Homo sapiens: one gene and its partners. The protein of the gene in region 1 purifies or fractionates together with the protein of each later gene. This does not show direct contact. Each region holds a gene or a part of one and is shown on either strand. Other genes may lie near its edges. The genes, in order: EDDM3B, CHST12, POGLUT1, NXPE3, SEMA6A, CNTNAP3 and PLXNA3.

The links.
Region 2: the proteins of EDDM3B (region 1) and CHST12 purify together in Homo sapiens (affinity purification with mass spectrometry; one large-scale study listed by BioGRID and IntAct). This does not show direct contact.
Region 3: the proteins of EDDM3B (region 1) and POGLUT1 purify together in Homo sapiens (affinity purification with mass spectrometry; one large-scale study listed by BioGRID and IntAct). This does not show direct contact.
Region 4: the proteins of EDDM3B (region 1) and NXPE3 purify together in Homo sapiens (affinity purification with mass spectrometry; one large-scale study listed by BioGRID and IntAct). This does not show direct contact.
Region 5: the proteins of EDDM3B (region 1) and SEMA6A purify together in Homo sapiens (affinity purification with mass spectrometry; one large-scale study listed by BioGRID and IntAct). This does not show direct contact.
Region 6: the proteins of EDDM3B (region 1) and CNTNAP3 purify together in Homo sapiens (affinity purification with mass spectrometry; one large-scale study listed by BioGRID and IntAct). This does not show direct contact.
Region 7: the proteins of EDDM3B (region 1) and PLXNA3 purify together in Homo sapiens (affinity purification with mass spectrometry; one large-scale study listed by BioGRID and IntAct). This does not show direct contact.

The regions. Positions count from the first base shown.
Region 1 is NC_000014.9:20,766,888-20,771,587, forward strand, and holds EDDM3B (epididymal secretory protein E3-beta precursor), read left to right. Parts: upstream 1-1,516; 5' UTR 1,517-1,619; intron 1,620-3,245; 5' UTR 3,246-3,263; coding exon 3,264-3,707; 3' UTR 3,708-4,061; downstream 4,062-4,700. UniProt on the Homo sapiens protein: Possible function in sperm maturation.
Region 2 is NC_000007.14:2,409,996-2,414,046, forward strand, and holds part of CHST12 (carbohydrate sulfotransferase 12), read left to right. Parts: intron 1-4,051. UniProt on the Homo sapiens protein: Catalyzes the transfer of sulfate to position 4 of the N-acetylgalactosamine (GalNAc) residue of chondroitin and desulfated dermatan sulfate.
Region 3 is NC_000003.12:119,489,243-119,493,293, forward strand, and holds part of POGLUT1 (protein O-glucosyltransferase 1 precursor), read left to right. Parts: intron 1-1,308; coding exon 1,309-1,476; intron 1,477-2,275; coding exon 2,276-2,332; intron 2,333-3,039; coding exon 3,040-3,196; 3' UTR 3,197-4,051. UniProt on the Homo sapiens protein: Dual specificity glycosyltransferase that catalyzes the transfer of glucose and xylose from UDP-glucose and UDP-xylose, respectively, to a serine residue found in the consensus sequence of C-X-S-X-P-C.
Region 4 is NC_000003.12:101,799,369-101,803,419, forward strand, and holds part of NXPE3 (NXPE family member 3 isoform 1 precursor), read left to right. Parts: intron 1-1,866; coding exon 1,867-2,621; intron 2,622-4,051.
Region 5 is NC_000005.10:116,448,963-116,453,013, forward strand, and holds part of SEMA6A (semaphorin-6A isoform 2 precursor), read right to left. Parts: intron 856-4,051; exon of another isoform or gene 666-855; intron 1-665. UniProt on the Homo sapiens protein: Cell surface receptor for PLXNA2 that plays an important role in cell-cell signaling. Required for normal granule cell migration in the developing cerebellum.
Region 6 is NC_000009.12:39,285,264-39,289,831, reverse strand, and holds the start of CNTNAP3 (contactin-associated protein-like 3 isoform 1 precursor), read left to right. Parts: upstream 1-1,664; 5' UTR 1,665-1,767; coding exon 1,768-1,852; intron 1,853-4,568.
Region 7 is NC_000023.11:154,471,681-154,475,731, forward strand, and holds part of PLXNA3 (plexin-A3 precursor), read left to right. Parts: intron 1-909; coding exon 910-1,005; 3' UTR 1,006-4,051. UniProt on the Homo sapiens protein: Coreceptor for SEMA3A and SEMA3F. Necessary for signaling by class 3 semaphorins and subsequent remodeling of the cytoskeleton. Plays a role in axon guidance in the developing nervous system.

The DNA of each region.
Region 1 (4,700 bases):
TTTTTTATCTTGCCCAAATTCCTATCTAAGGGGTCTGGGGAGTCATGCCCTACAAATCATCAATTCTCATCAGATGAGTTTTATTTAACCCTGTATATCATGTTTTACTTTCCAACCTGACTCTGGCATAACATTACCAGACAAACAAGAAAAAGTATTTTGCCCCAAAACATGTTTCTTTGCCACATTTTGAAATTGCCCTGCAAAGCTGTTCTTTGTGGGGGAAAATTTGCATCTGTAAAGAATCTCTATTAACATAGCTAAATATTTTTCTTCCAGACCTTCCAATCCTAAAGATATTAATTAAGATCTGAAAGGGAAACATTTGTCATCTATTGTCTCTAAGGGCAGCCACTATAAGACTTCGAAAGAATTGGTCTCTACCATCTTTATTTTAACCTGAATATTCCCTTTCTATCAATCTCAGGTCTTTAGACAAAACTAGTTGTCAACCAGAAAATGTTTAAATACACCTATGGCCTGGAGGCCCTCCACTCCCCATCAGCTTTGAGTTGTCCCGCCTTGCTGGACCAAACCAATGTATTTCTTAAATGTATTTGATTGATGTTTCATGCCTCTCTAAAATGTATAAAACCAGCTGTGCTCCAACCACCTTGGGCACATGTCCTCAGGACCTCCTGAGAGCTGTGTCATAGGCCATGGTCACTCATATTTGGCTCAGAATAAATCTCTTCAAATATTTTACAGAGTTTGACTCTTTTTTTTTTCTTTTCTTTTGTTTTGAAATGGTGTTTTGCTCCTGTTGCCCAGGCTGGAGTGCAATGGCGTGATCTCGGCTCACTGCAACCTCTGCCTCCCAGGTTCAAGCGATTCACCTGCCTCGGCCTCCCAAGTAGCTGGGATTACAGGTGCCCACCACCACGCCCAGCTAATTTTTGTATTTTTAGTAGAGATGGGGTTTCACCACCTCGGCCAGGTAGGTCTTGAACTCCTGACCTCAGGTGATCCTCCCGCCTTGGCCTCCCAAAGTGCTGGGATTACAGGCGTGAGCCACCACACCCAGCTGACTCGTTTCATCGACAATAACAAACTGCCTAGTAAAACTTCAGATACTGGCTACCTAATCATAACTATCTGGCCACCAGTTTCACTAGATACTCTTTCACCTCTCAACGAAAGTCCCACAGTTCACAATGTTATAAGTGGCTTTCTTCAGAGAAGTTTCTGTGTAACATAGCATAACCCTCCAGGGACTTCCCAGAACTTTGTCAGAAATTGAGTGCAGAAGCCAGGTCTCTCGTTGTCTACTGATAGCACCAGATAACCCCTTTCTGGGGTCACCTCACTCTAGGGTCTTGCACTTCTTCTGTGCCCTGGAGTCAGCCTTTGATGTTTGTAGCCTTTGCTTGAGGCCACTGTCTGAATAAACTCAAGTGTTCCAGATGAGAAGATACAGGAACAAGTTCACATAATAAGGCTATTCCCCATCACCACCTCCACTACCAATCAGCTGGAGCCTTGCAGCTCCCCCTGCTATTCCTTTCTCCACTGCTGCAGATTTCCAGGGCCCTGAGGAAAGGAGGACTCAGACTCTGCTCTTCAGATCCACACACTGATCCCAACTACAACCAGTGACCTGAACTTGGAGTCTGAGTAGGGTAAGAAGGGCTCTGCTGAGGATGTTTGGGGGACAGCCAGGAGCACTGAAAGGAGGCTGATTGAACTTTTAGATAGCAAACAATGGAGAAGGATCCAAATCATGGAAAACAAAGGTGTGAATTCTGGTCAGCCTCAGTCCCACTGATACAGGCTTTCCCTGCCCCTCCCTTCCTTCACCCCCAGTCTTCTCAAACACAATGCATTAAAACCGCTTACATCCTGCTCTTCTATCCTCTGTAGGTCTTTATCATCAGGACAGGGTTCCACAGATAGGAAGTACCGACCCTTTGTTCTGTGTCTGATGTGGACATTTGACATCATTAGAAGTGCTCTCAAATACATGCGTCTCATTAGACACTTGCAGGTCTGTAGGGAGCTATTATTAAGTCCATCTGAGGACACCAATGCTCAGAGTTGTGAATCAGGTTAGAGATTCAGTAAGGGCGGGAACACTTCTCATGGTAAATGAGGACAGAGCACTAGTTTAAACGGTAGACTCTTTCAAAAAGATCCCCACACTCCATGCTATCACCACAGAAGCCACTGTGGGGGCTCTTTTAGTCTTGGTGCTTGATTGATTACAGGAATATTTCAAATCTGGAATTCTGGTTGGGTGTAGTGGCTCATGCCTGAGAATCCCAGCACTTTGGGAAACCGAGGTGGGTAGATTACTTGAGGCCAGGATTTTGATACTAGCCTGGCCAACATGGCGAAACATTGTCTCTACTAAAAAAAATACAAAAATTAGCTGTGTGTGGTGGCAGGCACCTATAATCTCAGCTACGTGGGAGGCTGAGACAGAGAATCTATTGAACCCTGGAGGTGAAGGTTGCAGTGAGCCAAGACTGTGCCACTGCACTCCAGCCTGGGTGACACAGTGAGACTCTGTCTCAAAAATAAATAAACAAATAAAAACCTCAAAACTGGAGTTATTTTATGATGACATTTTCAAGGAGCAGCTCTGACAAACCAAGATCATTTGTAATAGTGATAATTAGGGGAATGACCCCTGAGAAGGAATATGGGTAGTTAGTAATGAACATACGTTCCACTCAGGCTTTGGAGAAAGTGTTATAAGGAAGTCAAGATTGGAGAAGCATCATTAAGTAATTGGAGAAGCAGGCAAGAAGTAATTGCAGGCTAGGCTGTCATTTTAGCGAATCGAAGCCTTCCTACCTAGGAACCACTTCCCAAGTAGTTACTCATTTTCTACATTTCCCTAAAATCTGACAACCCTTTCCACTTCAAGGACATAAACCTTAAAATATCATTCTCTTTTGGACACATGATCTCCTGAGAGTTGGTCTGGTAAAAAGGAGCCAGCTGGAGGGTGATTGGCTCCTCAGGTTGGGTGTAAGAGAGGGATGAGAGGAGATGGTTGGAATTCTCAAAATGAACTTCATCTATTTTTTCTAATTATGTGTTTCGCTTACACAGGCTGAAGCGTGTTTTTAGTTCTTAGAAACTCTATTCTCTAATGAGAATTAGCATCTTCTCATCGGGGAACCAAATAGTAAAATTGCACCCAAGTGCCTGCCTGGTGGGGAAGGAATTTTAAGGTGGAGTTCAGCTCTCTGGGCATTGTCTGGATAATGCTTTTCTTTCTCTTCTCTGTGGACACGCAGGCGGCCCCGGTGACTGAGATGGCATCGTCTCTAAAGATCTGGGGCACACTCTTGGCCCTACTTTGCATCCTATGCACACTGCTTGTACAGAGCAAAGAAGTTTCTTGGAGAGAATTCATGAAACAGCACTACTTAAGTCCAAGTCGAGAATTCAGAGAGTACAAATGTGATGTCCTCATGAGAGAAAATGAAGCTCTGAAAGACAAGAGCTCTCACATGTTTATCTATATCTCATGGTACAAAATCGAGCATATATGCACTAGTGACAACTGGATGGATCGCTTCCGAAATGCATATGTATGGGTCCAGAATCCTCTCAAAGTACTCAAGTGTCACCAGGAGAATTCCAAAAATAGCTACACAGAGAGCAGGAGCTTCAACTACATTGAATTCCATTGTAGCATGGACGGGTATGTTGATAGCATAGAAGACCTAAAGATGGTAGAACCTATCGGCAACTAGAAAGTCTATGCACATCCTCAGGTATTGGTAGAGTATTCAGTGCTTTCTAAGTAGCAGCCCCTGCCTCCATCAATAGTCCTACCACTCCCCTCTTGCATTTATTTGTCAATGTTTTCCAAATACTTAGAGTTATGAATAGCATAATTTCTTGATACCATAACTTTGCCTGTGTTGTTTCTCTGCCTGGAATACACTTTTGTCTTCATTTACCTAATTTACTCTTATACTTTTGTCGACATTCAGCTCATATGGCATCTGTTCTTGATTAACCCAAGACTTTCCTGATATTGACTCTCTTGATACATACCCAAGCTGAACAATCTTCCCTTCCCTAAATAAATTATATGACTGCAATGTGTGTGACATTCATATATGTTATGTGCACAGAGTGAGTATAGTGTGATTGATATGGGTGTGTGTGATCTAGACTATGCATGTGATTGATGCTGTGCAAGGGATTGAAGGTGTATTTTATGGGTGCATATCTAATGTATGTAATATGTTTGTGTATATGATGAGGGTATGAATGATTGTGTGCTTAGTTCAAGACAAGTTGTGATGTAGGCATTGATTGCAGCATCAATTTGAAATAATCAAAAGTGTCAGAATCCAGTTTTAAAGAGTTGATTCAAGCAAAAGGCTAGGAGTGGCCATTCGGTAACACACAGACTCCACAGAAATGGAGTCAGTGTTCCAAAGCTGAAAATTAAGTTCTTGCTTATGTAGGAAAAAGACAAAAGAATTTAACAGGATTACAACAATTTCTATAACAGCTGGTTTAAGAGTTACAACAAATTAATTAGTTACAGTTTGTCCCCCAAGTCTTCTTTTCTTTTCTTTATAGTTTTTCATTTCCTTTCCAATTTAAAAGAGTGTATTTAACATTCCATCTTAATGTGATAGCGATGAAGTCTTTCTAAGAGGAGAGGGAAGTTACTCTATCATGAAGATCAACAGTGGAGAGGGAAGGAGTCTTCCCCTGTACCCTTCAGT
Region 2 (4,051 bases), on another chromosome or scaffold:
GGAGTGCAGTGATATGATCTCATTGCAGCCTCTGTTTCCTGAGTTCAAGCAATTATGATTACAGGCCTGAGCCGCCACGCCCGGCCGAGCGCTTTCTTTCGTCGTTTTCCAAGGGGGTTTTAAAACATACCGACCAGTAGAGAGAGCAGTATTATACATCATCCTTCACCTGTCCCCAAGTTTCAGAAATTAGGCAATCAGAGTTTGTCTGGTTTTTGTTAGAACATCACCTCTTTCTTGAGCAAGTACTGAGTGCCAGATGCTACTGTAAGCCTTGAGAATACCCGCTGTGAGGCAGGACGAGGACCTCCCTTTTAAGTCAGTGCAGGAAGACAGTGAGTGGATTAACTGGTGTATATGAGCTATTTGAGGCCAGGCATGGTGGCTCACGCCTGTAATCCTGACATTTTGGGAGGCTGAGGCAGGAGGATGGCTTGAGCCCAGCAGTTCAGGGATTCTGCGATTGCACCACTGCACTCCAGCCTGGGTGACACAGTGAGACACTACTCTAAAAATAATAAATAAAAGATTTGAGGTAGGGATGGGATAAATGCTGCTATGAAGAAAACCAGGGTATGGGGAGTGCAGGGTAGAGACTGGGATCTACTTTCTCAGGGTGGTTAGGGAAGGCTTGCTGAGGAGGTGAGCGTCAAGCAGAGATCTGAAGGAAGCGTGGGACTGCCCTGGGATTCCCCAGCTGAGGGATGGTGGTGCAGAGGCCCAGCAGCAGGAGCCTGCTGGGTGCGGTGGATGAACGGCAAGGAGACTGTTGAGGCTGGAGAGGGTCGCCGAGGGGGACTGTGATAGAAGAGGAGATCAGTGGAGTCCTGGTCACGGGCCATCAGAAGGACTCGAGATAGGAAGCCACTGATCCAACTTTTAATAGAATAACCGTGGCTTTGGGGTTGAAAATGGATTGTGTGGGCCTGAGAGCAGAAGCAGGGAGACTGGTTTGGAGCCTGTTGCAATAACGCAGGTGAGAGCTGATGGTGATTGGGGCAGGGTGGGGTGTAGGTAGGGCAGAGGGGACTTGACAAGTTAGAGCCTGGATAACTATTTACTTTTTTAAATTATTTATTTATTTATTTTTAAATTTTGAGATGAGATCTCACTCTGTCATCCAGGCTGGAGGGCTGGAGTACAGTGGTGTGATCATAGTTCACTGCAGCCTCAGCCTCCTGGGCTTAAGAGATCCTCCCACCTCAGCCTCCTGAGTAGCTGGGACTACAGGTGTATACTACCATACCTGGCTAATTTTTAAATTTTTGTACAGATGGCTTCTTGGTATGTTGCGCAAGCTGATCTTGAACTCCTGGTCTCAAAATATTATCCTGCCTTGGCCACCTAAAGTGTTGGGATTACAGGCATCAGCCACTGCACCTGGCTGAGCCTGGATATATTTTGCATGTAAAGCCCCAAGCAGGTTCTTAAACTGATCATAGTGAGATTTATTATCATTTTCTTCTGAAATAATTTCTTTGAGTTAACTTAACTCTTTTTTTTTTTTTTTTTTGAGACGGAGTCTCACTGTTGGCCAGGCTGGAGTGCAGTGGGGCAATCTTGACTCACTGCAACCTCCACCTCCTGGGTTCAAGCAATTGTCTCTGCCTCAGCCTCTCAAGTAGCTGGGATGATAGGTGCCAGCCACCACACCCAGCTACTTTTTGTATTTAGTAGAGACAGGGTTTTGCCATGTTGGCCAGGCTGGTCTCCTGACCTCAGGTGATCCACCCAGCTTGGCTTCCCAAAGTGCTGGGATTACAGGCGTGAGCCACTGTGCCCAGCCACGAATTGATTTAACTCTTAAGTCAGTTGAGTCAAGTGAGTTATCGTTTGGATTCTAGAGTCAAATACCTATGCAACAAATATTTGAGCCTTATGAGGAATACAGAAGGTACATGAGATATGATCCCTGTCTTCTAAGAACTTGAAACCCAGTTTGGGAATATTGGACTGGTATACGTGCGTGGATTTCCTGTCTACCTGGGAAGGGCCAACAGAGGGCTTAGAGACGGGAAGGAAGAGAACAGGGTGAGCTGATAGCCTCTGTGCTCTAGGACCGGCTCTGCAGGGAAGTTACTTTACTTCAAAGGCTAAGTTTGGGCTCAGTTTTCATTCAGGTCTCCTGGGATATAAATCAACATTCCATTCTCATCAATGTGACCGTTAATTACATATTTTTATTTGGATATACTGTCAGATATAGTTAACTGAACACAAATGAAGTAATTGTATAAGCAAATAAACCATAGTCCTGGAGGTACCGCGTGAAAATGTGTCTCACGATGGAGGTTTTAATGTAGTACCACTGTGTGTAAGTTCCAGGCAGCCCAGGACATGCAGAGAGCAAATATTGACACCAGGAACAGAAACTTTCCACATTTTTGTTGACTACAGCGATGGGAACTGCAGTGAATTATTTGCCTTATATAGTGTCTGTAAAGCTGGAAAAGAAGTAGGTAGTTTCTGGTCTTTGTGTCAGTAGCATAAATAAATAAACTTGAAACATTCTTGCGCTTCTTATTGAAGGTCATGTCACTTGATTTAGTGCTCAAGAGCTTGGTTATTTGGACACGAAGAAGCTACTTCCCTCAGCAGTAAAGGAAATAGAAATTTGACTGTCTAGTGAAACCTACCAATTCTGCCTAAACATATACTGTAGAGGCCAGCAGAGCAGAGTGGCAAGGAAGGGGGGCTCTCCAACAACAGCCTGAGTTCTGAGGCCAGCTCTAAACACTGCTAGCTATGTAGACTTGTGCAAGTCTGTAGCTACTTTTCCCAGTTTCATCCCAGTTCATGTGAGGATTAAACAAAGTAATATGTGCAAAGCCCTTAGAACATCACTTTTAACAACATGTTAGCTATTGGTATTGTTATTTTAAAATCAATTTGCAAATAGACAGTTTTTTTTTTTTTGACTTGATAACTGGCTCTTGGTAGAAAGCATGAGTAATAATAAAAATAACACATATTTGTGTAACAAATATTTGAGCCTGATGAAGACAGAGAGATAAGTAAGGCCGGGGCAGATTCTAAAGAAAGTGCTTTACTATTTTATCAACCACTTAGCTGTGTTTTCTCATTTTTGTGCTCTCGGTAGCTCTGGTTAGCAGAAAGGCCTAGTTTGTTCTTCTTTTGTAGATGGACTGAAAGTCAGACATAAAATGACTTGGCCCAGGCCACTCAGCAGAGGCCGGACTTGGTCTCAGTATCCCTTCCCTCTTCCTCCCAGTCCCTCCGTGTCTGTGCGGAACTCTGCACTGGTGTTTTCTTCTGTACTGTGGAAATTGGTGAGAGCTGGGCCATTGCATTCATATTAGAGAGAGAAGTGTTAGCCTCTGGAGATCAGCTTCATAAAACCACAAACATTTTCTTTTTAACTTTAAATCAAATGTATTGAGTATGATTTACATGCAATAAAACGTACCCATTTTAAGTATGCAGTTTGAGGAACGTGGCCAAACATATTCACCTTGTACCTGCCTCTGCAATCAAACAGTAGAGCATTTCCATCGCCCCGAGTTTCTGCGTGCTCCTCTGCAGTCTATGATTTTCATCACGATTTTGGCCTCTTTTAAATGTCATATAAATGGAACCACAGAACATGCAGTCTTTTACGTCTGGCTCCTTTTTCAGTGTGCGACCTGTGGCGTTCACCCATGAATCAGCACTTCACCCTTTTTACACTCACTTGCTGATGTACATTGGGGTTGTTTTCAGGTTTTAGCTTTTTTTTTTTTTTTTTTTTTTTGAGACAGAGTCTCCCTCTGTCGCCCAGGCTGGAGTGCAGTGGCGTGATCTTGGCTCACTGCAACCTCTGCCTCCTGGGTTCAAGTGATTCTCCTGCCTCAGCCTCCCGAGTAGCTGGGATCACAGGCACCCACCACCACACCCAGCTAATTTTTGTATTTTTAGTAGAGATGGGGTTTCACCATGTTGGCCAGGCTGGTCTTGAACTTCTGACCTCAGGTGATCCACCCACCTCGGCCTCCCAAAGTGCTGGGATTACGGGCATGAGCCACCACGCCCGGCCAGTTATCTCATTTTAATT
Region 3 (4,051 bases), on another chromosome or scaffold:
ATATGCCCCACCCACCCAATCATTGAAGTTAGAATAAATATTTCTCAGTTAATAAATATTAGAATTATTATCCTGGTGTGCTGGCATGCTCCTGTAGTCTTAGCTACTCGGGAGGCTGAGGTAGGAGGATCCTTTGAGCCCAAGAGTTCAAGACCAGCCTGGGCTACATAGTGAGACCCTGTCTCTAAGAGAAATAAAATAAAATTCTGGGACTAAGAATTAGATGAACAGGTAAAACCAGGTCTAGAGGAGGGCAGTGGTGGTGGGGGTGGCTCAGAGTTAGGAGTGCTAATGACACGCAGAGTAGGAGCTATATGGTGAAAGCAACTCTGGTTGGCGACAGGTGCGTGCATAAGAAATGCTGAGAAGAAGACAGCTTTTTTTGTTTTTTTTTTTTCCCCTGTGGGCAATCTCTGAAAATTGATTAGGTTTTCCTCATTCTCCTCTCTACACCAGGGGTCCCCAACCCCCTGCCATGGTACTGGTCTATTAGGAACCAGGCTGCATGGCAGGAGGTGAGCAGTGGGGAAGCGAGCATTACCGCCTGAGCTCTGCCTTCTGTCAGATCAGCCTTGGCATTAGATTCTCATAGGAGCACAAACTGTATTGTGAACTGTGTATGCAAGGGATCAAGGTTGCGTGCTCCTTATGAGAATCTAACTAATGCCTGATGATCTGAGGTGGAACAGTTTCATCCAAAACCATCTCCCCCACACTACCCATCCATGGAAAAATTGTCTCCCATGAAACTGGTCCCTGGTGCCAAAGAGGTTGGGGACCGCTGCTCTATACTTTAAGAGAAGAGGGTGATGTCCAGGAAGCAGTGGAGACCTTCGACCAGATGGGGTACACTAGAGGAAAAACAAGGCTTTGGGAGGCCATGACTAGTTAGAGACATTAGGCCTAGAAAAGCTTGTGAAATTTTTTTCACTCGTTTTATTTTATGTTTACCATTGAACATTTATTTTCTCAGATATGTTCCAAATCTACAAGCTGTCATTTCCTTCTGAGCCCTGTATACACTCTACCCGGCACCCAGCTCCTGACCCTATCTAGTGCTGTCTGGAGAAAATATCCCCTATTTTTCCTCACCCTGCCATTCCCAGAACAACCTGTAGTCCTAGCCCTGGTAAAGTGGCTGATAGAAACCACTTAGGAACATATTAATGTGTCCTTGAAAACTCAAAGTGGAAAGAGAATGGAGAGGAATCATAAAAGGAAAGAAGGGGAGGGGAGAATAAGCATAAAAGGTCATATTTGTGGCAGCAGGCATATAGTATCAAATGTATTTTGTTCTTTTTTCCCCAGGTATCTGTTTAATTTTCGAGGCGTAGCTGCAAGTTTCCGGTTTAAACACCTCTTCCTGTGTGGCTCACTTGTTTTCCATGTTGGTGATGAGTGGCTAGAATTCTTCTATCCACAGCTGAAGCCATGGGTTCACTATATCCCAGTCAAAACAGATCTCTCCAATGTCCAGTAAGCAGTTATCCCCCAATGCAGAGTTTCTAAAGACCCTTCCAATCTGCTTTTAAAAATGCCTTAATGCCTTAAAACCAGTCATGTAAGACATTTAGTCCTACGATTTTTTTCCATTGAAAGCTTTTTTTCCTCTTGGTTTGCATATATAGTATTGCATTATTATCCAAGTAGGCTATAAGTGGAATTTAATTTGAAAAAGCGCTTTAATACTGGTTTCAAATGAAACGTTCAGACAAAATGAAGTTAAAAAGCTCTAATCTCTCCAAGACTAAAGATAGGGATATTCAATCTTATTATATTGTCAAAAGGATTTTCAGATACAGCATGAGAATTGACTCAAGTGAAGCTTCAGCAAATTTCCTTTCATGACAGGAGGAGCTAGGAAGAAGTATAGAGAAGGGCCAGAGTTATCTGAATATTGTTATCATGGTGATATCTGTGTATATATATTTTTTTTCTATATATAAATATATTTATATATAAATATGTAAAATAATATAAATATCTAATATAATATATAATATAAATATACAAAATATATGTAAATATATAAGGTAACTTCTGTATTTTCTCAAATATGTCCCAAATCTACAATAGGGTATCTTTAATCAGTGTGTGGGGGTTTTTTTTTGTTATTATTTTGTTCTTGAGAGAACCCTGATATCTTTGCTTGAAGGAAATAATCCACCATCCACATACCTAAAATTATCCATAGACCTCAATCTATATCGTCTTTCTGACTTAGTGCCAATGAAGTTGGTCTATATTTCACAGTCTAAAATTCTTTTCATTTTAGAGAGCTGTTACAATTTGTAAAAGCAAATGATGATGTAGCTCAAGAGATTGCTGAAAGGTGAGTTCTGTTCATTTTCCCTTTTCCACTTTACTTTTTGTCATCCCCATTATGCCCTAGCCAAAGTTATCTGAATATTGTTATCATGGTGACATCTGTATTTTATCCTCATTATATGGAGATAATTCAGAACTAAACCTGTCCTGGGGGAAAACATACACACATGTCTACATATGCTTGTTTTAAAGGAAAAAGATGGGCCGGGCGTGGTGGCTAACGCCTGTAATCCCAGCACTCTGGAAGGCCGAGGTGGGCGGATCACCTGAGGTCAGAAGTTCAAGACCAGCCTAGCCATGGTGAAACCCCATCTCTACTAGAAATACAAAAAAATTAGCCGGGTGTGGTGGTGCGTGCCTGTAATCCCAGCTACTCGGGAGGCTGAGGCAGGAGAATCACTTGAACCCGGGAGGCGGAGGTTGCAGTGAGCCAAGATCGCACCATTGCGCTCCAGCATGAGCAACAAGAGCGAAACTCCGTCTCAAAAAATAAATAAATAAATAAATAAATAAAGGAAAAAGATTGTTAAGTTGTATTGCTACATGCATGTATGTGGATATGATTGCCATAGGGTTGGTTCTTGAGGCTCAAATGAATTAATTTATATAAAATGCTGAATAATGCTTGGCACAAGGTGAGCACTCAAATGCAGACTGCTATTATCATTAAATTCTGTGCTTTAACATTTTCTTGTTAAATCTTGTCTCTAGGGGAAGCCAGTTTATTAGGAACCATTTGCAGATGGATGACATCACCTGTTACTGGGAGAACCTCTTGAGTGAATACTCTAAATTCCTGTCTTATAATGTAACGAGAAGGAAAGGTTATGATCAAATTATTCCCAAAATGTTGAAAACTGAACTATAGTAGTCATCATAGGACCATAGTCCTCTTTGTGGCAACAGATCTCAGATATCCTACGGTGAGAAGCTTACCATAAGCTTGGCACCTATACCTTGAATATCTGCTATCAAGCCAAATACCTGGTTTTCCTTATCATGCTGCACCCAGAGCAACTCTTGAGAAAGATTTAAAATGTGTCTAATACACTGATATGAAGCAGTTCAACTTTTTGGATGAATAAGGACCAGAAATCGTGAGATGTGGATTTTGAACCCAACTCTACCTTTCATTTTCTTAAGACCAATCACAGCTTGTGCCTCAGATCATCCACCTGTGTGAGTCCATCACTGTGAAATTGACTGTGTCCATGTGATGATGCCCTTTGTCCCATTATTTGGAGCAGAAAATTCGTCATTTGGAAGTAGTACAACTCATTGCTGGAATTGTGAAATTATTCAAGGCGTGATCTCTGTCACTTTATTTTAATGTAGGAAACCCTATGGGGTTTATGAAAAATACTTGGGGATCATTCTCTGAATGGTCTAAGGAAGCGGTAGCCATGCCATGCAATGATGTAGGAGTTCTCTTTTGTAAAACCATAAACTGTGTTACTCAGGAGGTTTCTATAATGCCACATAGAAAGAGGCCAATTGCATGAGTAATTATTGCAATTGGATTTCAGGTTCCCTTTTTGTGCCTTCATGCCCTACTTCTTAATGCCTCTCTAAAGCCAAAAAAAAAAAAAAAGACAAAGCCTCTTAATAAATTTAATGGAACTATACATAGAACAGCAGCTCTTCCTCACCCTTTGCATACCTTTAATATTTTTCCTTCTTAAATTGGCCACAGCAGGGGTCATTCACACTCTCACTGTCTTGC
Region 4 (4,051 bases), on another chromosome or scaffold:
TATATCTTAACTTCCTGCTCTAAGTGATGAAGAAAGCCCTACTCATTCTTATTTATTTATTTGTTATTATTTTTTTGAGATGGAGTCTCATTCTGTCGCCCAGCCTGGAGTGCAGTGGCGCGATCTTGGCTCACTGCAACCTCTGCCTCCTGGGTTCAAGCAGTTCTCTCCCTCAGCCTTCCGAGTAGTTGGGATTACAGGCGCCTGCCACCACACTCAGCTAATTTTTGTATTTTTAGTAGAGATGGGGTTTCAGCATGTTGGCCAGGCTGGTCTTGAACTCCTGACCTTGTGATCCATCTGCCTCGGCCTCCCAAAGTGCTGGGATTACAGGTGTGAGCCACCGCATCTGGCCTACTTCATTCTTTTATATTTGATTTCCACTAGTTATAATATTACTTTTGCATCATTAGGTGCATTCTTTATGGATTGTATCCTTCAAGGAATTGGTCCATTTCATCTGGGTTATCAAATTTATGGGCATAGAATTGTTCATAATATTCCTTTATTCCTTTAATGTCCATGGGATCTGTAGTGATGGCTTCTCTTTCATTTCTGATATTAATAATTTGTGTCCTCCCTCTTTTTTTCTTAGCCTGGGTAGAGGGCTTATCAATTTTATCAATCTTTTAAAAAACCAGCTTTGGGTTTCATTGATTTTTCTTTATTGATTTCCTGTTTTCAAGTTCATTGATTTCTGCTATCATGTTTATTATTTTTCTTCTGCTTATTTTGGATATTGTTTGCTCTTCTTTTTCTAGTTTGCTAAGATGTAAGGTTAAATTACTGATTTTAGGTTGTTTTTCTTTCCTAAAATATGTATAGTACTATGAATTTCCCTCTAAGCACTTCTCTTGCTTCATTCTATAGTGTTTAATGAATTATATTTTCACCTTCACCTAGTTAACATATTTTTAAATTTCTCATGAGATTTTGTATGTTACCCATTTGTATACCATTTTGGGATTTTTCCAGCTCTCTTTCTATTATTGATTTCTAGTTTAATTTCATTATGGCTTAAGAGAAGACACTGTATGATTTTTATTTTAAAAAATTTTTAAGGTGTATTTTATGGCCCAAAATGTGGTCCGTTTTGGTGAATGTTCCATGTGAGCTTGATATGAAGTAGTTTACAGATGTCAACTATATCCAGTTTATTGATGGTGCTGTTGAATTCAACTATGTCCTTACCGATTTTCTGCCTGCTGGATCTGTGTATTTCTGATAGAGGATTGTTGAAGTTTCAGACTATAATGTAGATTCATCTATTTCTCCATTAGTTTTTGCCTCACATGTTTTGATACTCATTGGTTAGGTACATACATGTTAAGGGTTGTTTTTTTTTTTGGAGAATTGACTCCTTTATTATTATGTAATGACCCTCTTTATCTTTGCTAACCTTCCTTGCTTTGAAATCTGCTCTGTCTGAAATTAATATAACTACTACTGGTTTCTTTGGATTAGTGTTAGCATGGTATATCTTTCTCCATTCCTTTACTTTTTTCTTGGTGTTTCTCCATCTTAGGTTGGACTGGGTGGCTCGAGTGGGCTGGAGTTGGATATTTCCCTTCTCTCAAGTTGGTTAGGCTCTGATAAAACTCCAATAGGCTAGGTTCTGATAAAGTGGTTTCTCTTGAGGGGCAGCTTTGTTAAGAACAACACAGTGCTCTGCATACTTCAAAATGGGTCCTTTTCCCTTTCTCTTCCCGGAAGCCCAAGGGGATTTTTCTTTGATATTCACTGTGAGAATCTGATTGAGCTCCTGGAGCTAAAACTCACAGAAGTGTGGGGAGCCCTCTGAATTTATGCCAAAATACAGAGACCTATTATAGTGGTAATTTCTGTTGTTTGTGTCTTCTTCTTCAGTACTTGGACCATGAGACTGTTTCAGCCACTTTCATCGACAGCAGTGGACAGTTTGTTTCCTCCCAGGTGACAGGAATTAGCCGAAATCCCTACTGTGGCTATGATCAGCAGACCCTGTCCAGCCAGGAGCGCATGGAGGAGGACTCCTTGCTGGCTGCCTTGCACCGGCAGGTTCCTGATGTGGGCCCAGTCCCCTTTGTGAAGAGCACTGACCCTTCTTCCAGCTACTTTGTCATCTTGAACTCTGCTGCCTTCTTTAAGGTGGGAAGCCAGCTTGAGGTGCTGGTTCATGTGCAGGATTTTCAAAGAAAGCCCAAGAAGTATGGTGGAGACTACCTGCAGGCCAGAATTCACTCCCTCAAGCTGCAGGCTGGGGCTGTGGGCAGGGTGGTGGATTACCAGAATGGGTTTTACAAGGTTTTCTTTACTTTGCTATGGCCAGGCAAAGTTAAAGTATCCGTATCTCTGGTCCACCCCAGTGAAGGGATCAGAGTTCTTCAGCGCTTACAGGAAGATAAACCAGACAGGGTCTATTTCAAGAGTCTCTTCCGTTCAGGAAGAATTTCTGAAACTACTGAGTGCAACGTGTGTCTTCCTGGGAATCTGCCCCTGTGTAACTTTACAGACCTCTACACTGGGGAGCCCTGGTTCTGCTTCAAACCAAAGAAGCTCCCTTGCAGCAGCAGAATTACCCATTTCAAAGGTGGATACCTGAAAGGTCTCCTAACCGCTGCAGAGAGTGCTTTCTTCCAGAGGTATGTACTGCTTTTTCTTGGGGATGATTTGAAGAGTTCTTTTCCACTGTCCTTGTCCCATTTAGGAGACTTTCTGGTATTCGGTATGTGTTTCTTACCTCTCTCTCAACTTGGCCCAATACAGAAGAGGTAGTGAATAAAAAAAAAAACATAGATTTGTATTTTTCATTAGTGTTTTAAAAATGAAGCTTAATGCTTATCTGAGTCCAAATTAAAGACCTTTTACCCTTGAATTTTTGTTCTTTACCCTCATATCTGTGTTTTCCTTTAGAACCACATAGCATGTTTACACAGTAGCTGTGTAAGTAAAATCCCTTATTCACAGAACAGATAGAAGTTATCTAAGGGTCAGATGTGGTGACTCATGCTTGTAATCCCAGCACTTTGGGAGGCTGAAACGGGAGGATCGCTTGAGCCCAGGAGTTTGAGACCAGCCTGGGCAACATAGCAAGACCCCATCTATTTTATGTAAAGAAAAAAATAATCCAAGAACAGGGCTGGTAGGGCTGGTAGTCAGGCTGGTGTTTTATCTTTGTATCTAATGAACTGAAACTTTAAAAAGTAACATAATAACAGTTTTTAAAATCATTTGAACCTACTGATTAAAAAACTATGAATATGGCAACATTGCTGGGTTGACTTAATAAGCATAGGAAGTCAGGAATACCACAGAAAACTATATTTTTTAAGCTAAATAGTTGTTGAAATTATTGCAGTATTGTGTTCAAATTTCTATTTCAAATGTAAGCTTAAAATATTTTCAGCATGATGAGAAATACATGGAATAATGTGCAGAAAGGAATATGGAACCAGTATGAATTAAAATTTGTGTTTTCTTCAACATTCCATAACATCACTAAGAAATAAAAAATTATAAAAGCTACATGGTTAAAAAGTACCATGCTGGCCAAGCGTGGTGGCTCATGACTGTAGTCCCAGCACTTTGGGAGGCTGAGGTGGGAGGAAGGCTGGAGCCCAGGAGTTTGAGGTTGCAGTGAGCTGTGATCACAATTGCACTACAGCCTGGACAACAGAGTGAGACCCTGTCTCAACAAAAAGTACAATTGTTTGAAAGAATGTATACATGTTTTTTACTTTTTAGTGAAATATATTGTTTTTAAACATTCCTTGGTAGAGAGAATTTTTTTGTTGGATAAAAGGGAGGTATTTTTGTTAAGGATATCTGGGCACCCTAAAAATTTCATACTTTATGTCCACTCATTACCGTATGGGAGAAAAGTTGCTACCATAAAGTATGTGGTTTGTAGGAGCTCCTAAAATAAAACTCTTCAGTTTTCCACCCTGAAGTCAGCTTTTGGTCATACCAGATTATGTACATATGTAGTGGGTTCATGCCATACTTTTAGAAGGCCAGCAGAGGGAGCACTACTCAATGTACAGTGTTTACTGTACTGCTGAGAAGACTAGTA
Region 5 (4,051 bases), on another chromosome or scaffold:
ATTTAATAAAAATTATGTGACTACACCCATCCGTAATCTTACACTACATTAACCAGGATTCAGTGTTTCTGAAGGAAGGTGCTTTCGCTATTCCTGCTTAATCAGCCACCCAGCTGAGTGACTCTAATCAAATGCAAACACAGAAGCTTTTATTTTTTAATACCAAGTGAGAATACACATCACAGTTGTCAGATCTTAAGTGCTTGATGCAGTCGCTAAAAAATAAAATCTCTAATACCTCAATTCCTGCCTCTGGAGAGTGAAAGAACATGAATACATTAGAGGCACTGCATGGGCTGAGGAAATGTAAACATTGTTCCTATTATGGAAATGATAGCAAGACAGAAAAGGTACCTTCTCTGGTCTCGGGAGACGCATTTTTCATCTACTAAATCAACTCTTTCTGGAATATGTTTCATGTATTTTACTGGCAGGTATCAGTGGCACAGAATTAGAATGAAAGGAAATAAAGATCTCTACCCCTTCCCAAGCCCACAACACGCAACCTTAAACTTCTACTGAAATGTTGTCTTTGTCACAGCCGAGACCTTGAAGCTTTCTCATGGGGGTTTTTCTGCTAAAATATTTTGATTTCTGAAGTGATGGTTTTAAAACCCAGAAACCTTAGCCTGAAAAGTACATTCTCTTTTTCTTTCCTTCCTAAGGGTCCTCCTCCCTTCAATTGTGACATCACAGTTGGTTGCTGTGGAAATGATTGTCCTGTGACAAAGGATTGTGACTTAAGTAGAAGCAGCAAATATCTCTTAAGAAATAAAGATTCTGTGATCCAACAAATACCCTTGGTAATAAAAGGCAGTCAAGGCAATTCACCATAAGGAAAGAGTGTACAAGACGGTAAGATATCAAATAATTTTCAAATGTGATACTTTTCAAATATTTCCAGATTTATCTCCATCAGCTTTTAAGGGGTAGAAACTGAGAAGCAAAAAACAGCCGGAAATTTGGCTGTAACTCACACCTTTTATGTGTGAAGCTCCCCAAACAGTGGGGTGTCCTGCATTCAAATATATTTTAGTACCTATTCACCAAGGAAATGTGCTAATGAAAATTTTCTTTCTTAAATTTGCATTTCCTTATTATGCTAAAATAGCTACTGATTTTTCTTCAATTTTGATTATGTATGGGGTTCTACCGAACACCGTTTTTAACCCCCTACATATAATTGCACAAAAATGTACACCTGTGGATAAAATGGTTTTAATTTCTCTCATTGACTTGGTGATTTCAGTGGGAGTTGAACACAGGCTAGACGGCCCCAGTAATGGGGTGGGGGTGTATTAGGTGTTTTTTTCATGGCAATGAGTATTTCATGAAACCCTTCCAGGCTACCAAATTTAGGGGGACTGGATATTCCCAATAAATGTGTATTATAATAGGAAGCTATTTACAATTGACTTTGGCATTCTACAATTTAAACTGCCCTCTCAGTTTAAAAGGAACGTGGAAAGAGTAAAGCTAGAGCAATTCATTGGTTTCACTGGGAAAACTGCAAATTTTTCACATGTATCCATTGCTTCTTAGCCTTACTTTTAGCTCCCAAATATCATTCTTCTTTCATGTCTGAAGGTCCTTGGCTATTTTAGACTCATGAAAGCTACTTATTCTTTCACTGGGAAGAACTCTTTTTTAGTGGATGATATTTGAGTTCAGGTTTTTGGTTGTTAACAAGTTAAGTAGGATCTGACCTTTCAGGAAAATGGTATCTCAGACAGATTTTTTCCCCCGTCTCATTTTGTTATATAAAGAGTGGCCTTAAAAACATTTTTGCATGTCTTCATCTATCCATGGGGAGGCAGAGGGCTTTCCTCATCTGCTTGTGTAAATTCAGAAACGTCCAAAGATGGAAACAGATCAGAGAGTAAGTTGAAAGTGCAGTTGAAGAAGATAAGGTAAACGTTATTTTTGGAAATGCCTTTCAAACTTAAAGCTTTCTGCTTATATCATGAAAAAGGCCAAAGAAGCATTCACAGAAATGATCAAGTCAACTTTGTGGAATAGCCATTGTGAAGGCTTGGAAACAGCAGACTTGTCAGTAGTGGTGATAAAAGCAGCTAGAGAAGATCTCAGTGGGCTTGGAATTGCAGGCTCCCACTTACTGGCTGGGTGACCTTTTGGCAAGTGACTTAACATCTCTGGGCCTCAGTTTTTTTATCTGTAGCATGAGGTGAACACACCTAATCTTACTGCCTTACTGGATTGTTACAAGAATCAAAGGAAATAAAAAATAGGAAAGAGCTTAAATGCTGTAGTTTGCTGGACAAATCTAAAGCTCAAAAGAAGCCACAAAGGAGAAGTGGTGGGTTAGTGGCTCACAGAGGGCTTCCAAGTGATAGTCGCAGCTGCTCCATTGGATTCCATTTGCTATTGGTCTCCCATGGGAGAGGAGTAGACCTGTGCTTCCAGGTCCAAACTTCGTGCCTTCTAAATGTAGTCAAAAAGGTGATATGAGATTTCGAAGCAATATAAGGGAATGCATACTGTTTCAGGATGCCTATAGTTACTGAATTTTGAAATAATTAAAACAACAGAAGTGGAAAATGTTGGCAATTATAGTTGGATTCTCAGTGGAGTGCAAATCCTGGGCAAGTACCACATTTTTTCGGCATTTATAACCCTTGCCATCCACAGAGCTCTTAGTTGGGTAACTCAACAAATGATGGCTGAATAAATGGGTTTTCAATACATTGTAGAGCTATTTTTAAATGAACTTCTAAACTTGGGAGGTAATCTTTAGAGTGACTATCACCCTTGCTTTTGAAGTCATGGAAATAAATTCTATCTCCAATCATATAAAAGAATTTTAATAGTAGCATCTATCAGACAAACAAAAATAAATCTATAATGGTGCTCAGTATTTGCTCAAAACAATAAGAAGAGAAACTATTTCAAAAATGAAATTAGTTCTGGGAAAAATCCAAAAGAGTCGATGACGATAAATGGGTTATTTACAACAACAGAGTGCCCCAGTGGAACTGAATAATTAGAAAAAAAAAAAATGCATCTCTGCAAAGGGCAAAGGGCAAAGGGCAACAGGCTAGAGCTGAGTATCCCTTGCTTCAGATGCTGCCTGGAAGCCCTGGGCAAGTAAAGGGCCCTTGGAGGGTGGTGTACTCCCCTCCGCAGGTATCCTCCCACTGCAGAGAGAACAATCAGAGTTGGCTTCTCTACCCTAGGGTCTTGAAATTCCTTCCTCTGCCAACCCCTGCATCCTCTTCTGCTCTTACCAATTGAAAATGGGGCATTAGTAATGAAAACAGTATTTGAAAAATCCTTTGCATTGATTCATTAACCACCAGCTATTTCTCACCAGTCATAAGGTGCTAAATGGTTAGTCTTTCCACCTTCCTATTGCAGGAAGCAAGGCACACCCTGGCTTAGAGATTTCTCTGAAATCATGTCTTAAATTGGCAGAACTGAGAAAGAATAGAATCTCCACTGTTTTTTTTTTTTTTTCCTGAGGTGAGAGTTTTCAGATGCTGGAGGGAGACCTCAGAGAGGAAATTTGAAGTTCTTTAGAGTCCAAAGCAATGAAAAGATTATGAAGGACCCTGCCCCTAGACCCTGCAACATGTGATTCAAAATAAGAACAATTGTAAACTGAAAACTAAGAGGAAGCCCAATACAATTCTGACTTTTCCTATGATGACCATGTTAATAAATTTTGAAATATCAAACACTACATTCCTTATTTTAAAAAATGTTTTCTAGTAGTCCTGCTCATGGATACTATTCCGTGCAAAGGGAACCTAGCACCAGGCTCTGAGACAATTTGCTTTAGAAATGATGTTTTCCCCTAACTTAGGGTTGGGTTGTTTCTTTATTATCACTCTCCTAGTATAACAAGGTTTTGGCTCCAAGCATCTTTGTGGCTGCCTTCAGCAAACATTTACCAAGCACTGCACTAGGTGTCGGGGAAGGACAATGATGAATGAGGCATAAACCAGCAGGGAAGAAGGCAAGTGCTTGCATACAACTCTGTCCAAAGTGTGGCTATGTCATGAGTTACATCACTTCTGCTTCAACAGTGGGC
Region 6 (4,568 bases), on another chromosome or scaffold:
GGTTCAAGCAATTCTCCTGCCTCAGCCTCCCGAGTAGCTGGGACTACAGGCAGGCACCACCACGCCCGGTTAATTTTTTGTATTTTAATAGAGACAGGGTTTCACCGTGTTGGCCAGGATGGGCTCCATCTCCTGACCTCTTGGCCTCCTCCGCCTCCCAAAGTGCTGAGATTACAGGCATGAGCCACTGCACCCGGCCAAGTTCACATTTTTAAAGACTCCATCTGATGCCTGACAAATTGGTATAATAATAGATTGACATTTGTTGTTTTACTCTAGGTCCAATTTAGAAAATGATTTCCATTTTCTCTCTTTCTGTCTCACTGAAGGCAACTGATCTGTCAATCAAAACTTTAGATTTATAATTTTTTCTGTAATAAAAGACGTGCTATTTACAGAGTTCTTGTGCAAAAGTAGTTTAAGTGAACCCAATTAATAATTCAAGAATGACTTTGTAAGATTCTTCATCTATTACATTTGAATTCATTTTACATTTTACATCTATTACATTTGAATTCATTTTAATGAAAAAGCCTTTCAAAGTTGTCTTTCTAAAGGGAAGATTAATACACTATTTCTTAGAGATACCATCTAAAAAAGTATCTTTCTTTCTTTTTTCTTTTTTGGAAACTCGCGGTGGTGGTAATGTGAGTGAGTTTGTCAATCTTTGCCCCTACTGTGAATTTGAGAAGCAGAGGAAGAGAAAAAGAGAAAGACCCCCCCCCCCGCCCCCTGCCTCCGCCCCTCCCTCTAGCACACAGTAGGCGCGCAAGGAGTGCAGTGTTAGCTGCTGCTGGACTGAGCTCCTCATCCTACACTTGCAGGGGTTGCTCTTTTGGACAGAAAGCTGGAATAAAACGTAAATTTTAGACTTCCACCAAGGCCAGGACTAGGGTGAAGGGACTAACGCACTAGTCTCAGGAGCAACTGTTAAGTAACGCTAATCCTGAATGAATGAAATAGTTTTAAAATTGAATGTAATCGCAAAGAAAAAAAAACCCATGATAGACAAAATATTAAAACTTTAAATAAAGGCTTGCACTCGCACAACCCAGGCTCACCGGCCTCTCCCTGCTCCTGGCCCGGTTTCCCAGCTTGGTTCTCTACAAGTCAGAATTCCTAGCAAAATCAAAGTGTGCGCGCGTCTGCCCAAGTACACGCCGCAGAGTTATTTCTGCCCCATCTTCCCTATTTGAACTCAAACAGGACAGCATTTTCCTGGGTGCAGCCCCTGCGTTGGGTGAACAGCGCAGTGATAAAGCCTGGCGTTCTCCACCTGCAGGCGGAGGCTGACGGCGCGGTCTTTGGCGCGAGTCCGTGCACCGCGGCCGCCCCGCCCCGGTGGGAGAGAGGGACGGAGGAAGCTGCCGGTATAACGGGAGGAGAGCGCCAGGCGGAGCTGGGGCGTCCCTCCCGCTCGCTTCTTGACTCGCGTTGCTGCCGGCCGCCTCCCGCGCCTAGTGTCCGGGACGCGCCTGAACCTGCCGCCTCCGTGCCTGGGGTGGCGCCGCGCGGCCCCGAGCGCTCCAGAAAGCTGCGGCGCGAGTCCGCGGGGCCGACCTCGGAGACGCAGCTGGGGCCGGGCGCGGCTTGGCGGGAGGGTCTGCAGCGCCGAGGGAGGCTGCTGGTGCGTGAGGAAGAGAGCTAGAGACTGGACAGGGGAGGCAGAGCAGCGTCAGAGCCGCGCAGGGGACGGGAGTGAGAGCAGGAGCGACGCAGAGCGGCCGTCGCCGTGCCCGGGTCTCAGGGCGCCTGGCTGAAGTGAGCATGGCTTCAGTGGCCTGGGCCGTCCTCAAGGTGCTGCTGCTTCTCCCCACTCAGACTTGGAGCCCCGTGGGAGCAGGAAATCCACGTAAGTACAGCAAATGGTTTAAAACTTGCGCTAGGCTGTCTGGAAAACTTTGTTTTTTTTTTTTTATTATCGGTAATATTTGGAAGTGGAATTGCAGAACATGCTCCTGAACATGAAGAACCTTAAAAAAAATTTGGAATTGCAACCCGAAAAAGACGATTTTGTTTACAATAGACTTTCCTCTTGTGGGGGAGTCTAAGATATACCATGCATGTTTTGACTTTTTAATCGATGTACTTGAATATTCATTGAGAAAGTGGACGTTTCTGTAAAACCTGAAAAGCATCTTAATAAGAGATTAGCGTGCAAATGCTGTCATTTATTCCTTTTTAGGATTGTAATATTTTGTAGGAATTAAGTCTAACAGGGAAAAAACTGGCAGACATTACATCATACTGCATCAACTTAGATGTTAGCAGCTTACAGTTTTGCCGACCTTGGCAGCTTCAGAGTTAAAATGCTAATTAACTTCCATGCAGTATAGGGACAGAGCGCCTGTAGGTGAAACTAAATTAATAACCTGTCCTAACTACTAAGGGAATAACACTTGAACACCCCTGTCAGGGGCTTCGTTTCTCATAGTAGAAAGTTCTTGCTTAAAGACAAAACTCAGCCAGTCATTTAGGTGATCTTGAAAATGATTCCTCTCTGGATGCTAATATTTTACATTATTTAATTTGCCATCAGGTTCCCTGTTTTTTATTTTCCTTAATTTGGTAAACACCTAGGAAGCCTTTATTTCTAGAATGGGCTATGATTCTAATGTAATGATGATATTCCAGACAGATGAGCAAAACATAATGTACCCATATTTTATCACACATAAAAATGTTTACACAACATTGCACATTTTTTTTTTGGCTTGGAGTAAATCTCTAGCAGAGAGTTGTCTTTCTTTCTTGATTAATCAAACCATGAGATTAGAATTTTTAAAATGTCTTCCTCTTCCTTCTCAAATCACTTTTATTTTTCTTTCAGTGGCATCTCCCCGCTGTCAGCCTCAGCCCTCTCCTACCAAAATCTCTTTCGAAATAAGTTCCAATAAACGCCAGTGGCCATGTTTGGAAATTTAGATTATTGCAGGATAACCAAGGGTAGCTTTCAGCAGTTCTCCTAAGCTGTCATGAAAAGTTTGCCGTAGCTCAGTGCTGTTCTGCCCGCGGGCTCAAGGGTGGGTTGGTTCTTCACACACAGGGCACGCACATGGGTTCATGAACTCACTGTGCATCATGATTCAGTTGCGCCTCAGTTAATCCTACACTTGGTGTGCCCTTCCAAAAAACAAGCTCCGGATTCCTTTGGTCAGATGCTGTACCGTGTTTCAGATTCAACTTTAATCTGCTTTTGTGAGAAGGCTTTGTGAATAAAACGTTGTTACTTAAATCAAAATCCTTGGGTCTTGTAATGGAAACTGCCGTTTGGCTTAAACAAACATATAAATGAGCTACTTATAGAAAGGCATGCTAGAGTAATTGACCAATCAACTGGCAAAATACAACAACAAAAAAAGTCACTAGAGGTCACTCTTACTATTGAATAAACAGGGCTTCAAAAAGACCTTCCTGGAGAAAAGCAAAGCAATGAAATCTGAGTGAGACCCTGCCACCACCTTTCCTGTTTTTGTTGCATAGTTGTGATTACTTTTTATTCTCAGGATTAGTTGTATTGGTAGTTATTTTGCTTGGAATCCAGTGGAAGGATTACAAAGCCCATAGAAATTAAGCTCTTCTCGTTTATAGTGAACATTCTTTTTGGAGGAGGGGAGGGCAGGGACAGATATTCCAAATGGACTCAGCACCAGACGGGACTCTCGCGAGTTGCTGAGTGACACGTGAAATTTCAATACTACTACTGTGGGTGTTTTCAGTCTTCTTTCGTTGATGAAACTTAGTATCCTCATATCTAATAAATTTTACTAATTTTAAATTACCTTTTAGATCAAGTAATTCTTCCAGATAAAACTATGTAACTGTAATAATTATACCACCTTCAATACCAAGAAGAAAGTCAATAAGGACATCTAAAAGTTTCCTTCTCATGTAGACACCATGAGTTGCTCACGTTATTCACAGCTGGTTTTCGAGAAGCACATTGGCCACCCACGAAGGCAACCTGTTGATGATGGCATGAAATGGCTCTTCATGGGAAGAGCTCTATAGGCCGGGCACAGTGGCTCGCGTCTGTAATCCCAGCACTTTGGGAGGCCGAGGTGGGTGGATCACCTGAGGTCAGGAGTTGGAGACCAGCTTGGCCACCATGGTGAAACCCTGTCTCTACTAAAAATACAAAAATTAGCCGGGCGTGGTGGCAGGCATCTGTAATCCCAGCTTCTCGGGAGGCTGAGGCAGGAGAATCGCTTGAACCTGGGAGATGGAGGTTGCAGTGAGCCGAGATCCCACCATAGCACTCCAGCCTGGGCAACAAGAGGAAAACACAAAACTCTGTCTCAAAAAAAAAAAGCTTTCTAAACATTTGGCATTTTGGGGATTATGTGCAGTTTATCTGAATGTTATTTGACCCGACAAATACATGGGAAAGCTTTGTTAGGAAGATTCTGCATGAAGGGAAATATTTTCCTAACTTCAGTGCCCATAGACTTGCAGTGAGTGAAAGGTCACTTACTGCTCTCATTGAGTCCCTGAAAACAGCAGGAAGCATCAAGAGAAAGATTGAACGCTGGGCACTGATCCCAGGGATACACAAACAAATGGCTGGG
Region 7 (4,051 bases), on another chromosome or scaffold:
GGTGCAGCCAGTGACAAAGGCAGGAGGGTTGGTGGGGGTTGGGGATTGTTCACGGTCTCTCCCCTGACCAGGGCCTGGGGCCGGCACAGGTGATGCTCTCTGGGATCACAGGTAGATGCTGGAATTTGAGGGACCCAGGAGATAAGCCACTGGCTGGGTACAAAGTGGCCACTGGGCAAAAGTTAAAGGGCCTGAGCACTGGAAGGGATGGGTCAGGCTTTGTGATGAGAAATAGCCAGAGGCAGGAGGACATAGAGGTGTGGACTTTAGGATGGAGTCTGGGCTGGACACATTTGCAAGCCTGTGGATGGCATTTAAAGCCCTGAGCCTGGATGAGCTCACAGGGAAGCCACAAGTGGGTGTGGAGGGAGAAGCGGCCCAAACACTGAGCCCAGGGCCCCAGGACACAAAGAGGGGAGGGGAGGGGAGGTGCAGCAGCCAGCGGGGAGGATGCCTGAGAGCGCCTGGTGGGGTCTGGCAACCTGAGCCAGTGAGGACCCCTCACAGGTCAGGGAGTGGCAGTGGCCGGCTCCATCTTCCAGTGCTGCTGCTGGTGAAGGATGGTGACCTGCAGAACACTCACTGGGTCTGGCGAGGGTCACGGGGTCCTGGCGCGAGGGAGGCTTGGGCTAGGAGGTAATGGGAGGGGGAATCCAGCACGGCGAGTCCAGAGTCCAGGTCACTCTAGGGACAGGCCGCACCCTAGCTGTGGAGAGGAGGAGGAGAAAGTGCTGTCGTCGGAGGGGCATTTGGGGCTGGGGAGAGCTGGTGGGTTTGTACAGGGGCTGCGGGGGAGGACGGAGGGATGAGGCGTGTGGGAGGGAGGAGCCCAGCTGGGAAGTGGGGACTTTGCATGGCAGGAGCTGCGCCCCCTACAGAGCCCAGCTCCAGGGGACTCCTCTCCCCCAGATTCTCACGGCTCTGGACCGAGATGCCTCTTGTCGGAAGCATAAGTTGCGGCAGAAACTGGAACAGATCATCAGCCTCGTGTCCAGCGACAGCTAAGGTGGTGGAATCGGTGAGGAGGGGGCTTCTCAGTCCTGTGCCGTCCTCCCATCCAGGGGAGTGGCTGGCTCAAGCCTGGGTCCCCGGGCTGAGCCCTGGATTGGGTATCGTGGGGCAGGTCACCCTGGCCACGATGCCCCCGGCACACCCAGGCCCCCTTCATTAGTGCCTTGCTTTGGGCCCTGCAGGGGGAGGGGTGACAGGGCGAGCCCCCACCCCAGCAGCAGCAATACCCCCACCCTCCTGCCCTGTGCCCAGGTGTTGGGACAGTCCCACCCTCCCTGCTATTTATATCCCTCTGCCTATTTATTGAATCGAACTTCGCCTCTGTCTCCATCTGTAAATATGTGTCCCCCCACCGGATGTCGCCACCCTCACTCACCTGCCTCTTCTTGAGCTGTCCTGGGCCCTGCCACCCGTCTGGGCTCCTTTGTGTAGCATTATCAGCCTCGGTCTGGCCTCTGGCACCTCACCCTTGCCATGGCTGACCCCACCCATTCCAAGGCGGGGTCACGGTACCAGCAGCACTTGGGGTGAGGCCTCCAAAGCTTCCTCAGAATTGTGGCTGTGCCACGCTGGACCACAGGGTCCCCCTCAAGCATCTCGGGGCCCTATTCTCTCTGAGCACCTGGAGGGCTGGACTCAGGCTTGTGCCAGGGCCTGACTTGGGCCTGGGGGCCCTAGAACGCTCCTCCTCCTGAGCCTACTGCCAAACGTCCTCAGTGTTGTCTGCACCTGCTCCGACTCCTTCAGCCGCCCCATTCAGCGCCCGCTCCGTCCAGTGCCCGCCCTGTGGGGCCAAGGCGGCCGTGCCTTACTACTCTGTGTCTTCTGCCTCCTCTGAGGAATCTGGCCCTGTCTGACAGTCCCAGACCCCCCGTTCTCTCCTCTTTAGTTGCATGAGTTTTTCTTTGTTCATGGAATGTTTTTTCCTGATTAAATGTTGGGGAAATGCCATCCATGTGGGGCTCTGTCCTTGGGGCAGGTCAGTAGACCTGTGGATGCTGCATGAGCTGGAGCCCCATTGTGGGAGAAAGGACCACTCCTTGCAGGGTCCCAGAGGGTTTGGGGAGGTTCAGGGCCATACCCGACCCATCAGCAAACCCCGGTGGCTCTACCTTCAAGACAGATTCAAGGTAGATAGATTCTCCTCCCTTCCACCACCCCCACCCAGCTCTCCTGTGCCATCGTCTATCTCTGCCTGGATGCCAGTCTCCCTGCTTCTGCCCTGGCTCTCTTCAGCCTGTTCTCAGCGTGGGAGGCAGAGAGATCCTGTTATGATATAAGGTGGATCATGTTGCCTCACTGTTTAGAACCCTCCGGCGGTTTCAGCTGCAGCCAGCTCCTTCAAAACCTGACAATTGCATACTGTCGAGGTTGTGGCACCCATCATGGTGCACCTACCAAAGTCTTACTCCCAGGCCTGTTAAGTAATGCAGGTGGGGAGAAGGTGACATGCAATTTATTTATTTATTTATTTTGAGACAGAGTGTAGCTGTGTTGCCCAGGCTGGAGTGCAGTGGCAAGATCACAGCTCAGTGCAGTCTCAAACTCCTGGGCTCAAGTGATCCTCCCACCTCAGCCTCCTGAATAGCTGGGTGTATTAGTGCACTCTACTATGCCAGGCTTTTTTTTTTTTTTTTTTTGAGATAGGTTGCCGCTATGTTGTTCAGGCTGGTCTTGAATTCCTGGTCTCAAGTGATCCTCACCCCTCAGCCTCCCAAAGTATTGGGATTACAGGCATGAGCCACTGTGCCCGGCCAGGTGAGATGGAATCTTATTTTTACTTTTTATGTTTTTTTTTTTTTCTTTGACGGAGTGTCGCTCTGTCGCCCAGGCTGGAGTGCAGTGGCATGATCTCGGCTCACTGCAAGCTCCGCCTCCCAGGTTCACGCCATTCTCCTGCCTCAGCCTCCCGAATAGCTGGAACTACAGGTGCCCACCACCACGCCCGGCTAATTTTTTGTATTTTTAGTAGAGACGGGGTTTTACTGTGTTAGCCAGGATGGTCTCGATCTCCTGACCTCGTGATCCACCTGCCTCAGCCTCCCAAAGTGCTGGGATTACAGGCGTGAGCCACCATGCCTGACCTTTTTTTTTTTTTTTTTTTTTTTTTTTTTTGGAGACGGGATCTTGCCCTGTTGCCCACGCTGGAGTGCAGTGGCAAAATCAACTCACTGCAGCCTTGATGTCCTGGGCTCAAGTGATCTTCCTGCCTCAGCCTTCTGAGTAGCTAGGATTACAAGTGCTTGCCACCATACCCAGCTGTTTTTTGTTTTTTTTTTTTTTCTTTAGTAGAGATGGAGTCTTGCTGGTTTTGAACCTCCTGGGCTCAAGTGATCCTCCTGTTTTGGCCTCCCAAAATTCTGGGATTACAGTTGTGAGCCACTGTGCCCAGCCAAGTGAGATGCAATTTTTTTTTTTTTTTTTTTTGAGACAGAGTTTCACTCTTGTTGCCCAGGCTGGAGTGCAATGGTATGATCTTGGCTCACCGCAACCTCCGCCTCCCGGGTTCAAGTGATTCTCCTGCCTCAGCCTCCTGAGTAGCTGAGATTACAGGCATGTGCCACCACGCCCAGCTAATTTTGTATTTTTAGTAGACACAGGGTTTCTCCATGTTGGTCAGGCTGGTCTCGAGCTCCCGACCTCAGGTGATCCGCCCGCCTCAGCCTCCCAAAGTGCTGGGATTACAGGCATGAGCCACTGTTCCTGGCCTTTCTTCTTTTTTTGTTTTTGTTTTTTTTTGAGATGCAATTTTAAATAGGGTGGCTTGGACAGCCACCTGAGTTGGGTTTAAAAGCTGCCAGCTCCAGCCGTCCAGCTGTGGGGCCACGGTGCCAGACAGTGGTGGTGGTTATAGGACCGTAGGTGTTTACCAAAACTAGACAAGTCCACATAACAACCAACTGCACAAATAAGGAGTAAAATAATAAAGAGAAGGACGTGTGAGGCAGGACTGGATTGTAGCCCAGGATAAAGAGAAGTTGCGGGATGACAGCTGTGCCGTCGGCCCAGACAGAACCATCTGGACAGAGGACAGAGGATA